2 linked regions of the Homo sapiens genome follow. The protein of the gene in region 1 interacts with the protein of each later gene in a biochemical or structural test. Each region holds a gene or a part of one and is shown on either strand. Other genes may lie near its edges.

What was found. The genes of interacting proteins can lie anywhere in the genome.
Region 2: of the proteins of CRTC2 (region 1) and SIK3, one has a biochemical effect on the other in vitro, tested with the Homo sapiens proteins (one study listed by IntAct).

The regions. Positions count from the first base shown.
Region 1 is NC_000001.11:153,955,508-153,963,262, reverse strand, and holds the start of CRTC2 (CREB-regulated transcription coactivator 2), read left to right. Parts: upstream 1-4,650; 5' UTR 4,651-4,765; coding exon 4,766-4,918; intron 4,919-5,032; exon of another isoform or gene 5,033-5,179; coding exon of another isoform or gene 5,180-5,202; intron 5,203-7,755. Other genes in the region: SLC39A1 (zinc transporter ZIP1), read left to right, coding at 548-734, 913-1,043, 2,509-3,165. UniProt on the Homo sapiens protein: Transcriptional coactivator for CREB1 which activates transcription through both consensus and variant cAMP response element (CRE) sites.
Region 2 is NC_000011.10:117,095,110-117,102,692, forward strand, and holds the start of SIK3 (serine/threonine-protein kinase SIK3), read right to left. Parts: upstream 3,320-7,583; 5' UTR 3,307-3,319; coding exon 3,034-3,306; intron 1-3,033. UniProt on the Homo sapiens protein: Positive regulator of mTOR signaling that functions by triggering the degradation of DEPTOR, an mTOR inhibitor. Involved in the dynamic regulation of mTOR signaling in chondrocyte differentiation during skeletogenesis.

The DNA.
Region 1 (7,755 bases):
CCATCCTGGGGCCTGAAGCGCTTGTTCTCTGCGCTGGGAAAAGGGGAACGATGGAGCGATCCAGCACCCAAACTTACCCTGTCCAGGTGGCCCACGAAGCTACCCAAGACATCTCTGCACAGCCCTAGCCTTTTTGGCTTCACCCACTCCGTTCGGGAGTTGGGGACCCGGCCTCTACATTCCTTAGGGGAACTCCAGCTCCAGGTCCTATTTGGAGGCGGCTCCTAGTTTCCTAGTTTTCTGGGGGCACCAGGTGAAAGGGTGATGAGATATCCATACAGCCTTTCTCATGCCTCGGTTTCCCCCGTGCAGTCTCCCTGAATAAGTCACTTGGGAAAGAAAGTGTGAGAAGAGAGGAATGTTCCTGGTACAGGAGTAGATGAGTCACCCTGGGTAGGGGAAGGTCACAAAGTGGCTGGGGCCAGGGAGCTGCACTCTGCTGACCAAGCTTCCCCATTCCTTGCCCCATCTTCCTTTGCATGATTTTTCCCAACCACTCTGGTCTGTCTTCCTAGGTCTGAGAGTCACTGGAGCTACCAGAAGCATCATGGGGCCCTGGGGAGAGCCAGAGCTCCTGGTGTGGCGCCCCGAGGCGGTAGCTTCAGAGCCTCCAGTGCCTGTGGGGCTGGAGGTGAAGTTGGGGGCCCTGGTGCTGCTGCTGGTGCTCACCCTCCTCTGCAGCCTGGTGCCCATCTGTGTGCTGCGCCGGCCAGGAGCTAACCATGAAGGCTCAGGTAAGCCTCTCCTTTTCCCCACACTGCTATGAATGCTTGGCTTAGGGAGGGCTCTGGGGCTGGCGGGGAGTGACCAAAGGAGGAGGGAAAGGCAAGGGTAGCCATTGTTTGGGTTGGGGTGGTCGGCCCTGGAGGGGGTTTGTTTGCTTATTCCCCTCTGTGCTTCACCCCTACCCAGCTTCCCGCCAGAAAGCCCTGAGCCTAGTAAGCTGTTTCGCGGGGGGCGTCTTTTTGGCCACTTGTCTCCTGGACCTGCTGCCTGACTACCTGGCTGCCATAGATGAGGCCCTGGCAGCCTTGCACGTGACGGTGAGCACTGGCCTGGGCATGTGACTTGCGGGAGGGGAATCACACACCTCTGGGAGTGTTGGTTTGTGGAGATTGATTCATGTGCCACTCCATGACTGTGTGGAAGACTTTTGGCATGTGGTATGAATTGTGATTTTTGGTTATGGGGCATAATTCTTTCTATGTGTTCCCTCCCCCTTCCCCATTCCCTGTGTGACCCCTACATTCCCGTTGAGACAGTAAGACACTTTTTCTCAGGTGTGTGACTTGCTCTATGGGTTCTCAGTTCTAGCTACCAGCAAGTGCTCCAAGAATCATCTTCACTCTCTCACCACTTTCCTAAAGGGCTGGAGATAGAGGTCTCTGTAGGCCTGAGAAGGATAGGAAGCGATTCCCTGGGTCTTGGTGTTGCTAACCTTTTTAGGCTTTGGCCCAAGGAAGTGGGCTGTGAGGAATGATCAAGTCCACGGCATAGGACTTGGTTTATTATAGGAAAAACTGAGGCCGTTGGATAGTGGGGCAGGAAAGTCATCCTGGGCTCTTTCCTTTTTTCCTCTAAAACTGAGGAAGTAACACTGGATGTATCCCTTTGTGTGTCTGTGACTGAGTGACCTGTGTTTCCGTGTGACTGCGTATAAGCCTGAATGTCCTGTGATATGTGGCTCTATGTATGAGTATTTGGGGAGATGGGCAATGTGTGACCTTTTCATGTATGTCTACATCAGTGACTCTCAACTAGGAGTGTGGCTTTGCCCCTCAGGAAACATTTGGTAATGTCTGGGGATATTTTTAGTTGTCACAATGGGGAGGGGGATGGAGGGAACATTGTGCCTGCTATTGGCATCTGGTAAGTAGAGATCAGAAATGCTGTTAAACAATCTACAGTGCACAAGACAGCTCCCATGACAAAGAATTATCTGGCCCAAAATGTTTTTGTTTGTTTGTTTTTGTTTTGTTTTGTTTTTGAGAAAGAGTCTTGCTCTGTTGCCCAGGCTGGAGTGCAGTGGCACAATCTCGACTCACTGCAATCTCTGGCTCCTGGGTTCAAGTGATTCTCCTGGCTCAGACTCCTGAGTAGCTGGGATTACAGGCATCCACCACCACACCCTGCCAATTTTTGTATTTTTAGTAGAGACAGGGTTTCACCATGTTGGCCAGGCTGGTCTCAAACTCCTGACCTCAAGTGATCTTCCCACTTTGGTCTTCCAAAGTGCTGGGATTATAGGCATGAGCCACTGCCCCTGGCCCCAAAATGTTAATAGTTCCAAAGCTGAGAAACTTTGGTCTACACGTAACACTGTGAGTGACACCATAATCTGTGTGTACGTATCATTCTGTGTCAGTGTTACCAATTCACTCTATCTTTGTGTGACTGAGAGTAGCCCTGTGTCTGTGTCAGACCCTAGGTCTGTGTAACTGGGCTTTCACCAGATTTTGCATCTCACTCTTCCTTCCCTGAACATTTTGCTGCTGCTTCTGCCCACAGCTCCAGTTCCCACTGCAAGAGTTCATCCTGGCCATGGGCTTCTTCCTGGTCCTGGTGATGGAGCAGATCACACTGGCTTACAAGGAGCAGTCAGGGCCGTCACCTCTGGAGGAAACAAGGGCTCTGCTGGGAACAGTGAATGGTGGGCCGCAGCATTGGCATGATGGGCCAGGGGTCCCACAGGCGAGTGGAGCCCCAGCAACCCCCTCAGCCTTGCGTGCCTGTGTACTGGTGTTCTCCCTGGCCCTCCACTCCGTGTTCGAGGGGCTGGCGGTAGGGCTGCAGCGAGACCGGGCTCGGGCCATGGAGCTGTGCCTGGCTTTGCTGCTCCACAAGGGCATCCTGGCTGTCAGCCTGTCCCTGCGGCTGTTGCAGAGCCACCTTAGGGCACAGGTGGTGGCTGGCTGTGGGATCCTCTTCTCATGCATGACACCTCTAGGCATCGGGCTGGGTGCAGCTCTGGCAGAGTCGGCAGGACCTCTGCACCAGCTGGCCCAGTCTGTGCTAGAGGGCATGGCAGCTGGCACCTTTCTCTATATCACCTTTCTGGAAATCCTGCCCCAGGAGCTGGCCAGTTCTGAGCAAAGGATCCTCAAGGTCATTCTGCTCCTAGCAGGCTTTGCCCTGCTCACTGGCCTGCTCTTCATCCAAATCTAGGGGGCTTCAAGAGAGGGGCAGGGGAGATTGATGATCAGGTGCCCCTGTTCTCCCTTCCCTCCCCCAGTTGTGGGGAATAGGAAGGAAAGGGGAAGGGAAATACTGAGGACCAAAAAGTTCTCTGGGAGCTAAAGATAGAGCCTTTGGGGCTATCTGACTAATGAGAGGGAAGTGGGCAGACAAGAGGCTGGCCCCAGTCCCAAGGAACAAGAGATGGTCAAGTCGCTAGAGACATATCAGGGGACATTAGGATTGGGGAAGACACTTGACTGCTAGAATCAGAGGTTGGACACTATACATAAGGACAGGCTCACATGGGAGGCTGGAGGTGGGTACCCAGCTGCTGTGGAACGGGTATGGACAGGTCATAAACCTAGAGTCAGTGTCCTGTTGGTCCTAGCCCATTTCAGCACCCTGCCACTTGGAGTGGACCCCTCCTACTCTTCTTAGCGCCTACCCTCATACCTATCTCCCTCCTCCCATCTCCTAGGGGACTGGCGCCAAATGGTCTCTCCCTGCCAATTTTGGTATCTTCTCTGGCCTCTCCAGTCCTGCTTACTCCTCTATTTTTAAAGTGCCAAACAAATCCCCTTCCTCTTTCTCAAAGCACAGTAATGTGGCACTGAGCCCTACCCAGCACCTCAGTGAAGGGGGCCTGCTTGCTCTTTATTTTGGTCCCGGATCCTGGGGTGGGGCAGAAATATTTTCTGGGCTGGGGTAGGAGGAAGGTTGTTGCAGCCATCTACTGCTGCTGTACCCTAGGAATATGGGGACATGGACATGGTGTCCCATGCCCAGATGATAAACACTGAGCTGCCAAAACATTTTTTTAAATACACCCGAGGAGCCCAAGGGGGAAGGGCAATGCCTACCCCCAGCGTTATTTTTGGGGAGGGAGGGCTGTGCATAGGGACATATTCTTTAGAATCTATTTTATTAACTGACCTGTTTTGGGACCTGTTACCCAAATAAAAGATGTTTCTAGACATCTGTACAGTATCTGATTCGTTTGTTTTGGGAAAGGGGTGGGCATGTGGCCAGCCTGAGAGGGCCTGAGTCCCAGATGTTTACAGCTGTTTTAAGATTCTTGGTCTCACTGTTTTCACTCAGGACCCGATAGTCCCCTTCCCTGAAGATGACCTAATTTTTCCTCCTTTGTGTCTTGGTACTTCTTTCCCGGTCTCCACCCCTCGGCTTCCCTTCTCTTCCCTCCCCTCCCTCTTCCTTTCTTCTCTCTTCAATCCCTCTCTCCTTTCCGTTCGTAGTCTCAGGGCTAATTTAGAACTACTCTTCCCAGCTTGCACCTCTCAGGGAGTAGCCGAGAGGGTGGAGCCAAGTCCCCAGTTTCCGGAGTCAGCAGGGCTGCTGGGAAGTGGAGTCCGTTTCCTCCTAGTGCTGCGTGACTGGGGATGTGAAGGAGTCTCGTAAACAAACTACAATTCCCGGCGGCCCCCGCGCGCAACAGGTCAGGGCTAGGCTGGGGCCGGGTTCGCGGTGCTCGCTGAGGCGGCGGTGGCTACGGCTGGAGGAGCCGGGCCGAGGCCGCGGCGGAGGCCGCGGCTGGTACTGGGAGGGTGGCAGGGAGGGACGGGGAAGGAAGATGGCGACGTCGGGGGCGAACGGGCCTGGTTCGGCCACGGCCTCGGCTTCCAATCCGCGCAAATTTAGTGAGAAGATTGCGCTGCAGAAGCAGCGTCAGGCCGAGGAGACGGCGGCCTTCGAGGAGGTGATGATGGACATCGGCTCCACCCGGGTGAGGGGCCGCGCCGGGGAGCCGGAGCAGAGCTGAGCAGTTACGGAGCGGAGACCGGAGAGGCGGGGCGGGGGCGGGCGCCGCAGCGAAGGAGGCGGAACAGAGCAGGGGACGCGGGCGCCGCCGTTTGGGAGGCGCAGGTTGAGGGCCGAGGGGCAGGAAGAAGGATTTTGCCGGGGGAGACCGAAACACCGGAGAGGTTCGGGGTGTAGAGGCGACTGGGGGCCGAGTACGTGAGGTGGGAGTGGGCGGAGAGGGGAGATGAAGTCCGGCGGAGGTAGGAGGTGAGTGGTCCTTGTGCATCCCTGACGGAGTCCCCTCGAGGACGCTACTGAAGCATGCCTGGTATTGGGGTATGGCCTGGGAGGAGGGCTGCTTGTCTGTAACCTGGCTCCTCTGAGTTTGTGATCTCCTCCAAACTGGTCCCTCTGCCTTCTGCGCTTTGGTGCCCCCGGGAAAGGGCCCCTTGAGTGGTTTGAACGAGCGGTGCTGTGTATAGTGGGGCAGGAAGTCCCCTCCTGCGTCCCGTCCTTTTGCTTCCTTTTTCAAATACTTCTTGTGGTTTCCTGACGTGAATGAAGGTGAGGTCCATTGCTTGGTGTTTTGTCCTGGCCTCCTTGGAGGAGAGGTAGGGTTTTGAATCCGACAACTGGGTAACCGTCCGACCATAAGTTGTGTGGAACTCTATGGTTTGCTGAGCTTTCTAGGGAGTTGGCTGCTTTGTGGGTTAGTGTGTAGGGTGCCTTGGAGGGTCTTCTATGTGTTGAGAATATTCATTCCTAGGAGTTCTTGAAAGAACTTTCAGGCCTCTGCCAGGCTGCCTCTGAAGCCCCCCTGGCTTGGTTTCTTGCTTTCCAAGGCTGGAGGTCAGAGGGACCAAGGGGTAGGAGTCCGCCTAGGTGGTATGCAGTCTTAATTTAGGGACACATTCTTCTAAAACAACAGTAGGTAAGGATATTGCAATGATTCCTCATGGCAGAGAGCTAGAAGGAATTTAAGGATTGATGGTGGAACATTACTACAACATCTCTAGCCTTTTTCTGCTGGTCTGACTGTGGTTGCATTTATGACTGTGACTCTGGTTGTATTTTTGTGTGTATCCCCCTTGACTCTGTTACTTTTTTTTTTTTCTCGTCCTTTCCCCTTTGAGTCTCTAGGGACTATGTGCCCTAGTTTGTGGGAGTCAGAAGTTAGGTGGGGAGGCAAATCTGGGAGGGTGTCTGTGCACGCATGTGCACACTTAAATGCATGTGTGTGCATAACCCACTGTAACCATTGTGAGGATTATTATCTAACTGTAGACTGCTCCCCTTTAGGAGCTTTTTCATCATGTTGGGGACAGAGACAGGAAGATGGGAGGCTGATCTTGATAGCGTGAGGCCCTGCCCTCAGGACTGTGATTCTAGCAGAGGCATGGTGGGATCTTAGGGCTCGTATGTGCAAAGAAAGGCTGTGCGAAACTCAAAAGCTGGGGCTTCTCTTTACGGTGCCTCGATCTCTTAAAAGGCCCCTTCTACCCACCTTGCTCCTATTGGTTAATTTCTCAGCTACACAGAAAAGTCTAGTGGGCATACATGGCCAGGGGACCCAAAAGTCTAGAGCTAGGGACAAGAGATCTGGGACTCAGCCTGTTATCTGGCCAGGTGGGAGGGCTCATTTGAGACAGAGATGGCCATGGGAGGCTATACCACTGAGATACTGGGGTTGCCATATATGAGACCTCAAGTGGTCTTCAAGTGGTCCAGAGGTCAGCACAGTGCTCACTAGGCTGACCTCCTGGAACAGAATGTCAGTTCTGATGTTGGCTTCTGTACAAGAGTGTGACCCTGGAAGCTCTTAGAACTTGCCCCTCCTCAGCTGCCCTCCTCCCCATGGCCTTGCCCTGGGCCTGTTTATTTGGCTGGTCGCAGGGGCTGAGCCTTGGAAATAGATGCTCACCTCTCACAGAGACAGGATGTCTGTACACAGGCTAAACCCATGCCAGGCTGTCTTACGCCTATGCCAGACATAGCTCCCCAAAGTGAGGATGAGACCAGGAAGATGGCCCTGGCCCATGCTGGAGTGGGCTGCTGCTCTCTGTCCACCCTCCTTCTCCAGGCTTCCCTGCCAATTCAAGAGCCTTAGGATTCAGTGGAAGAATGTCCCTTGGTTTTGGTGCTGTTTTTCCAGCTAGGAGAGCTGCTATTCCTTGGATGTTCTAGTTTGGGAGGTGCAGGCTTTGTGTAGCCTTCCTGAGGCTGGGCAAGTGGCAGAGCCCAGAAGCCTGTGCTCTCCAGAGTGGGAAGGAAAGAGGCTGGCAGTAATGGCTCTGTGACATCCACCTGTGGCCTTCCTCTTAATCTCTCAATTAGTCCTGGACGCATCTGGAAAGAAAGCAGAGGTTCCTAATAGGCACTCCCCCTTGTGAGTAGCCCGGGAGCTCCTGGCAGCCCCTCAGGGACTCTGCTTAGAGTGATGCCAAATGAGACAGGCCCTCAGCAGAGTATCTGTCTCTGCCTGGCAGGATGATGTCAAGCAGTAGTGATATCATTGATGAGGGCAGTCTGCAGATGGGCTCTGGTGGGTTATTTGCACCAAATCTCGGTGGACCTTTCAAACCCCAACACTGGCCTTTTTTTTCTGGCAGATAATTTCTTTATTTTTTTTTTAACTTTTTTTTTTTTGGAGACAGGATCTCAGTCTGTCACCCAGGCGGCTAGAGTGGAGTGACATAAACATGTCTCACTGCAGCCTCTACTTCCTGGGCTGAAGTGATCCTTTTTTTTTTTTTTTTTTTTTGAGACAGAGTCTCTCTCTGTTGCCCAGGCTGCAGTGCAGTGGCACAGTCTCGGCTTACT
Region 2 (7,583 bases), on another chromosome or scaffold:
AGTATTGGATGGAGTGCAGTATCCTACTCAATAAATGAGGTTTACTTTAGTCTCTTAGTTCTTGGAATGGGTCATGTGTGTTTAAAAAAAAAAAAAAAAAAAAAAAGGAGGGGGATCATAATTATTTCTAATGTTCAGAAAATACCTATTACCTAACCTCCTTCAGCCAACACAAGTATCATCTGAATTACCTCTGTCTGACTGTTATATATGGTTATAAGAAAACCCAGACCATTTCCTACAAGGGGAAAAAAAAATCACACACCTCTAAAAGACAAAACAACAAATGACACATTCTGGAGACAGATGGGGGAAAAAAATAACTCTCTGTTTCCAAATGACCCCTCTGCAGAAGTAAGATAAAGGCTGCAGTGCATGGGGAGAAAAAAAATCAACCTGAGTTAACTGAAGCAGCAGCTTCGGCAACTTCTAGTACCTATGCACCTTCACCATTGTTATATAACCAAACCATAACCTTAATAGGCCATCGTACTGTATGTCGACAGCTGTTAGGCACATCTAAGCTGTCCGCATTTGAGAACCCCTTCCAAAGTGGATTCAGAGAAGCATGGAGCAGGCCAAAATATGCTCCTAGTTCACCCAGAGCACGTGACAACTCCTTGTGAATTAAGCTTCACTCATGTAGTCAGAGTAATTTAAGCAGCAAAAGATATAGCACTTGTAACTGTAACTAGGAAATTGCACACTGCTACAGAAACACAAATGAATGCTGGTGTGGCTCCTTCACACATGCAACTCATTGTCCAAGCCATTTCAGTCTCATTCAAGACTTTGAATATTTCCATACATAGGAATTGCACAACTGCATACCACAAATGATCAAAGATAAAAACCAACATAAACAGTGACACCCGTTTGTAAACAAGCCAGTGTTTAAAATGCTGCAGTCCTAAAGGATACCAAGGTCTCAGAGAAAAACTATGAAAAACACACGCACGCACATATACACACACATGAAAATTAGAAAGCGGGCAGACCAGCCATAATTAGGCACTGGCTTTGCTGACTACTGAAGATAGAAATGTCTCTTTTATATTAAAGCCAAGAATCAACTGTTTGCAATTACATTTACGAAAACATTCAACCCTGTCTGTAACAGATTTTATCAATATTTTGGTGTATCCAAGGGCTGGAAGATTCAAAATTCTTTAAATCATGAAACCATAAACCAGGCAACCAATTAAGTTCATGGAGACTATCCCCCAGAGGTCAGAGCAAAATAACCACAGGAGCACAAAGTGATTACACAGAAAATAGGCAGAAAAAAAGGAAAGAAATAGCAAAACAAGGAACAAGGCATATTGTTTGTAAATGTAAGTTTGCCTTGGCTAATAGTCAACTAGACTGGAAACACGGTGAGGGGCTGGGGTGGCAAGTGAGGAGCACACCAAAGTCTTGGCTCAATCGACTTCCCCTGACTTCCCCTCAGGGTCTGAGGGAGCCCTGGACTTTGGTATCTCATTCAGCTCTGACCTGCAGACTGGAGGCCCTGTGATAAAAACGGACAAAAAGGCTGAAGAGGGCCCTCCAGAGGAAGTGAAACTGACCAATCAATTCGCCACAGCCACCCACCCTGACACCCTGGTAAGAAGGGCCCCTTGTAGCCTCAGGCAGAAAGATGGTGGGGAAGGAACTTCAGGTTGCAAGTGATCAGGAGAGAAGGCCTAGATAAGTCACTGGCTTCAGAAAACAAGCCACTGCCAAAAAAGCAAAAACAAGGTAGGTCATGACAACCAGAGGCTAGGCTGAGGAGGTGAGGGGAATTGATGTGGCTTTGGTAGGAGGCGGCAGCAGCTGTAAGGGTTCTTCATTCCTCAGGCTGAGGGAAAACACAAGCTGCAGTTCTAAACATAATGAATGACTACATTAAAAGTATTCATTCAAGTAAGATATTGAGCAAAGAAAATTTTAGAGTAAAAATGGGCTTTGCGGGTTCCACCAAAACCAAAAGATTCCTCCTGATGTCTTAGATTCCAGTCCTCCCAACGAAGGCTACATGAAAGTGCTACCATATTTCCTCAAAGAATTTTACATGCATACATATATAGCTTCCTAATTGACCTTGGCCAATTTCACTCCTATAGCGCCTCAAATCCCTTTGAGAACTAAGGGCTCGATGAGTGTAATCTCCCGGTGTCTGGGTTCTTCAATCACAAGCTTCCCCCCAACCAGTAAAAGCCCACCCTGGGTTCTACAAAGCCCACAATTCCCGACCCTCCAACAACTAAAAATAACCAGCAATCAGCTCTCCCAAATTGTTTAACCCCTGACTACCTAGTGCCATCATAAACCTGGGACAGCCCCCACCCCCACCTCACTCCCCCATTCCCTGGGCCCCTTCCTGTGGACAAGCAAAGCAATTTCCCCCTTATTTCCCCATTTTCCTCATTGCCTCCTCCACTAATCGTGTCTCCTCGGGATCCCCTTCGCACCATCTATCAGTCTTAGATGATCAAATGCGGATTCCTGTCTCTGTCTTAAGGCACCAGGATCCTGGGACCTCCCAGCGCCCTGCAGACGTGCACATTCCCAGTCCGTGCCCCAGCCGTCCTGGGTCCCCTTACAAGCCCGGGTCTGCCACTTCACCCTTGTTTTTCCCCATCCTCCGGGTCCACATTTCATATGCCCCTGCCCTCATTCCCTTATGATTCCCTAGCTGCTGGTTCCAGAGTCTTCTGGGCTTACAGTCTCCCGGCCCTCGGGGAGTTCCGACCCCTTCTTTCCAATCATCCCCTTTACCCGCCTGCCCTCAGCCCCGAGGACCCCTCCCCGCGCCCGGCTCCTGGGCGCCGGTGCTCTGTGCCCTCGGCCCCCTGCTTGGAGTTCCGCCGTCTCGAGTCCCAGGTGTCCCTAGCTCCGCGCCCGCCCCGCCGCGGCTGGCTCCCTCCCGCCTCCCGGCCCCCAACGCTCCCACCACGCGCCGCGCTCGCCGCCCCGACCCCCCGGCTGGGGGGCGCGGACCTCTCCCGGCCCCGCCACGCTCCGACTGCCGCCTGGCCCCTGCGCCGGTACCTTGGCCTTGGTGACGAGGTGCGTGGCCCGCTTGACCACCGCGAAGTTGCCCTTGCCGATGGTGCGGTCGATCTCGTAGTAGCCGATACGGGCGGGCATGGGTCCGCGGGAGGCCGGGGCTGGGGGACGCGGCTGGCCGGCCGCAGGGGACACGGCAGCGGGGGCGGCTGGGGACCCCGGCGCGGGCGGAGGCAGCAGGCGGCCCGCGGGCCCGGCTCCCCCAGTCCCGGCCCCGGCAGCCCCGCCAGCTCCGCTCGCCGCCGCCGCCGCCATCTTGTTGTGCAGTGAAACCTCCGGGGCCGCGGGGAGCCGGCTCGGGGGAGGGGGCAAGGGGGGGCGGGAAAGGGGGGGCCGCGGACGTCACTCGGGGAGGCGGGGCGCTTTCGCCGACCGGCGCCCGGCTCCATGGCAACCGCGGGTCACGTGCCGACGCGCGTCACTGCCCGGAGCCATGGCAACCGTGACCTCACCGGCGGGCTCGACCTTCCCGCGTGGGCCCCGGTTCCTGAGGCGCTGGCTCCCGGGTGCCCCCCTCCGGGAGCTGGCGGTGGGAACCTTCGATGGGCCCCCAACCTCGAAGTCTCCGCCACCTTTCCCGAGTGGGGGGCGCAGGATGCCCGACCCAAAGCCAACCCCCCACCGCCGCTCGAATCGCCAATGTGACCTCTGCTGTGACCTCTGTCCCAGTTCAACGATCACCCAACCTCCCTTAACAAAAAAAAAGTGTTTCCTCATCACCAAAAATACCAGCGTTGTCCCACTTTAGCCCTTGAGGCCACAAATGCAGGAATAGCTACACTCTTGAAGCAACTGTAACCAAGTTGGTAACAACGCAGGGGAATTCTTCGGTAAAATTCCTTCCTCTTACAAAATCCAGCTCACCCTGCACAGTCAACCTAATTGTCACCGAATATAGGAGAATGGGGAAACTAGGATTTGCGTGTTCAAGGGCGGACAAGCCAGTCCAAACAGGCATTCCAGTCATTGGGTGGGTGACAGCCAAAGAAGGTACGTCATTTTCCTTCCTACCACCCCCATCTCTGAACAATTCTACAGGGATGTCTGTCAGAGTGCCTACATACTATTTCTGTTGCTTGTATAACCCTGATGAAGCAGTGGTGCGCATTGTCCAATGAACCACGTCGTGTTTAAACAACAGTCGGTTAAGCAAAATAAATAAGTAAATAATAAAAATTCCATCCTTCCTAGTGACTCTCCGAGGACATTGAGGGTCATCAAGTTAATAACTCCAGCAATTTCATATCTCTTTTTCTTCCCTTGCCTATTACCTGCATCCTTCATAGCTCCCAGGCTTCCTCCTCCTCTCTCCCCTTCCCTTTATTAAATAGATTAACTTAGCTGCTTTAGGTGAGGGTTGCAGGTAGGAAATCAGACTGTCAACAAAATAGTCTTTGGCAGGCTGGGTGGAAAGGAGGGAAGATTGTGAATATTCCAATGTTAAAATGTATTCCTTTGGACTAGTCCTGATCCATCCATATCTATGTCTCTCTCAATGGTAGAACTGTATTGTGAGGTCACTGCATGCACAGTATTAAAAACTGACACCCAGGGCACTGTAAATGTGTGGAAGGATAACTCGTGTTTACTCGCTGACCAAAGAACACCTCCTGGTGCTCCAATTCCCTATCCAACCATGAGTAATGGCTGGGACTTAAGATGGGACAGAGGGGTCATCCCACAATGGTCTTGGATCTATTCCCTGGTAGCTGTTCCAAACTGCCAACACAATTAACACTAATTGGCTCCCTTATTAGCAACTAAAGATAAGAATGAAGTGGGCCTTGGCTTCTTGCATTGGTTAAGCCCTTTCATCAGCTGAGCTCATTCCATCCCAGATAAATGATGGGGTGTGACCTGCCTCTCCTATCACTTCATGGCTCTCAGCTGCCTCTAGCAGGGACTATAACTTTGGTGCTGGGCTTCACAGCTGCAGTTTTTGGGTTTTTGTTTTTTTTTTTAGACAGAGTCTCACTCTGTCACCCAGGCTGGAGTGCAGTGGTGCAATCTCAGCTCACCACAACCTCCACCTCCCAGGTTCAAGCCATTCTCCTGCCTCAGCCTCCCGAGTAGCTGAGACTACAGGCGCACACCACCATGCCCGGCTAATTTTGTATTTTTAGTAGAGACGGGGTTTCGATATGTTGGCCAGACTGGTCTCGAACTCCTGACCTCGTGATCCCCCCGCCTCAGCCTCCCAAAGTGCTGGGATTACAGGCGTGAGCCACCGTGCCCAGCTACAGCTGCAGTTTTACCATCTCCCTGGGTGTCTCAACAGAAACCTTAGCTGGCTAGTAAAGCAAATAAAAAAATCTTTCACTGTGGAAGCTGCAGGAGCAGCACTGAAACCATTCTTACTGATGACTGTATGATCACAGAGTGTCCTCCACTAATGGAGGTAATTCGAACATCAAATATCAGAACTTTTGCTACTCTCTCAAGAGTGTCAAAAACAAAAACAACTCTGGGAAGGACCTAGAAAATGCAGCATTGTTCTAATTTCCACAGAGAAGAAGCAGATGACTCTTGTCCCTCAATAATGACCAGAACATATGCTGTGTGCTGTGTGTTATGTCACTTACGCTCCTTTCCTGTATAGATTGAGGTCACTAGATGGTGTTTCTGATTGAGACTTTGGTAGAGACTTGCTGGAGATCTCCTTGAAGAATAGTCCTCTTTGGCACAAAGAATATAGAAAATTAGAGAAGGGAGTAATCAAAGGAGATCATCAGGCAAAAAGGAAAATAGTTTAGATGTTTACGTTTAATAAGGATTTATTGAGTACCAAGAACTGAGTTAGGTTCTGAGAGAAACTCAGAGGAAATAGCAATCTGCCACGCGTTATGCTAAACAGTGTACCTAAGGGAACTCACTTAATCTTCACAACAACCTAATTAGATGGTTTGTATTATATCTCTATTTTGCAGATAAGGAAAATGAGGCACATAGGGATTAGGGGAATTGGCCAAAATCACAGAGCTAGAAAGTGATAGAACTGGGATTAAAACCCAGGCAACCTACCTCTGGAACCTAGGATCTTCCCCATTGTATTATAATCCCTGTCAAGGTAGGAGCCAGTAGGAAAAGTGGTCTCTCCATTAAGTTCAGGGTGACTGGGCTCAGTTTCGACCCAGGGAAGAAGAGTATTTTGAGAGGTCTTGAAAGCAGGACAGAGCAGGTAGCAGAAGCGCAGGAATAAAGACAACAAGACAGTAAGACTGAATGAAGTGCCTGCGATGGCTTCACTTGTAAATAGCACCAAGAAGAGTATCATGGCTTATTGTGTAGAAGTATTTCTGGCCCTTGAGGCCACACCTGTAATCCCAGCACCTTGAGAGGCCGAGGCGGGCGGATCACAAGGTCAAGAGATCACGACCATCCTGGCCAACATGGTGAAACCCCGTCTCTACTAAAAATACAAAAAAAATTAGCCGGGCATGGTGGCACATGCCTGTAATCCCAGCTACTCGGGAGGCTGAGGCAGGAGAATCGCTTGAACCCAGGAGGCAGAGGTTGCAGTGAGCCGAGATCGTGCCACTGCACTCCAGCCTGGCAACAGAGCAAGACTCCATCTCAAAAAAAAAAAGAATAAAAAAGAATATAGGCCTGGCCAGGCACAAGTGGCTCACACCTGTAATCCCAGCACTTTGGGAGGATGAGGTGAGTGGATCACTTGAGGCCAGGAGTTCGAGACCAGCCTGGCCAACATGGCAAAACCCTGTATCTACCAAAAATCTTTAAAAAATAGCCAGACTTGGTGGTGCATGCCTGTAATCCCAGCTACTTGGGAGGCTAACGCACAAGAATTGCTTGAACCCAGGAGGCAAAGGTTGCAGTGAGTCGAGATCGTGCCATTGCACTCCAGCCTGGGCAACACAGTGAAAACTCCTCTCACAAAAAAAACAAAATACAGGCCTATAAGTGTTGTGTTCCTGTCCTGAAGAAGACTCAGAGGAGTGGCTTGGGGGTGGAATTCTCAGAGCCCCTGTAATGCAAGACAAAGGCAGAGAGATAGACCCTTCACCCAGCTCCTAATCAGCCATCATTACCAACTCACCCTTTTCTGAAAAAGCAAAAGATAGATTCAAAGAGGAAAACGAGACATTTTCCTATGTAATGTCATTGTGTCCTGTTTCCAGAATTTGAAAAGAGCAGACCAAGTTATTCTCAATGACAGTGATAGGAACTTGGAAACTTTTAGAAGTGATACAGAATGTCTGAGGACCTAAGGTCTGACCTGAGAGTGATACAAACAGTGAGATGTCACATATTTTCAGTGATTTTCAAAGAACACTTAGGCTGCCTGCAGAGCAGTTTACCTGCAACCTGAAAGAAAATTGCAGCCTTACAATGTTGCTCCTTAGACTCTCGGAGCATGAGGACTTGAAGAAAGCCAGGCTTTGCACTTTTTATTGGTCCAACTCATTACTACTCTGAAAAAAAAAAGAAAAAAAGCTAAATTTATACATGCAATGTTGATACAGGAGCATTATTCAGAAATTCTGTATGCCAAAAGACAACATCGTAGTATA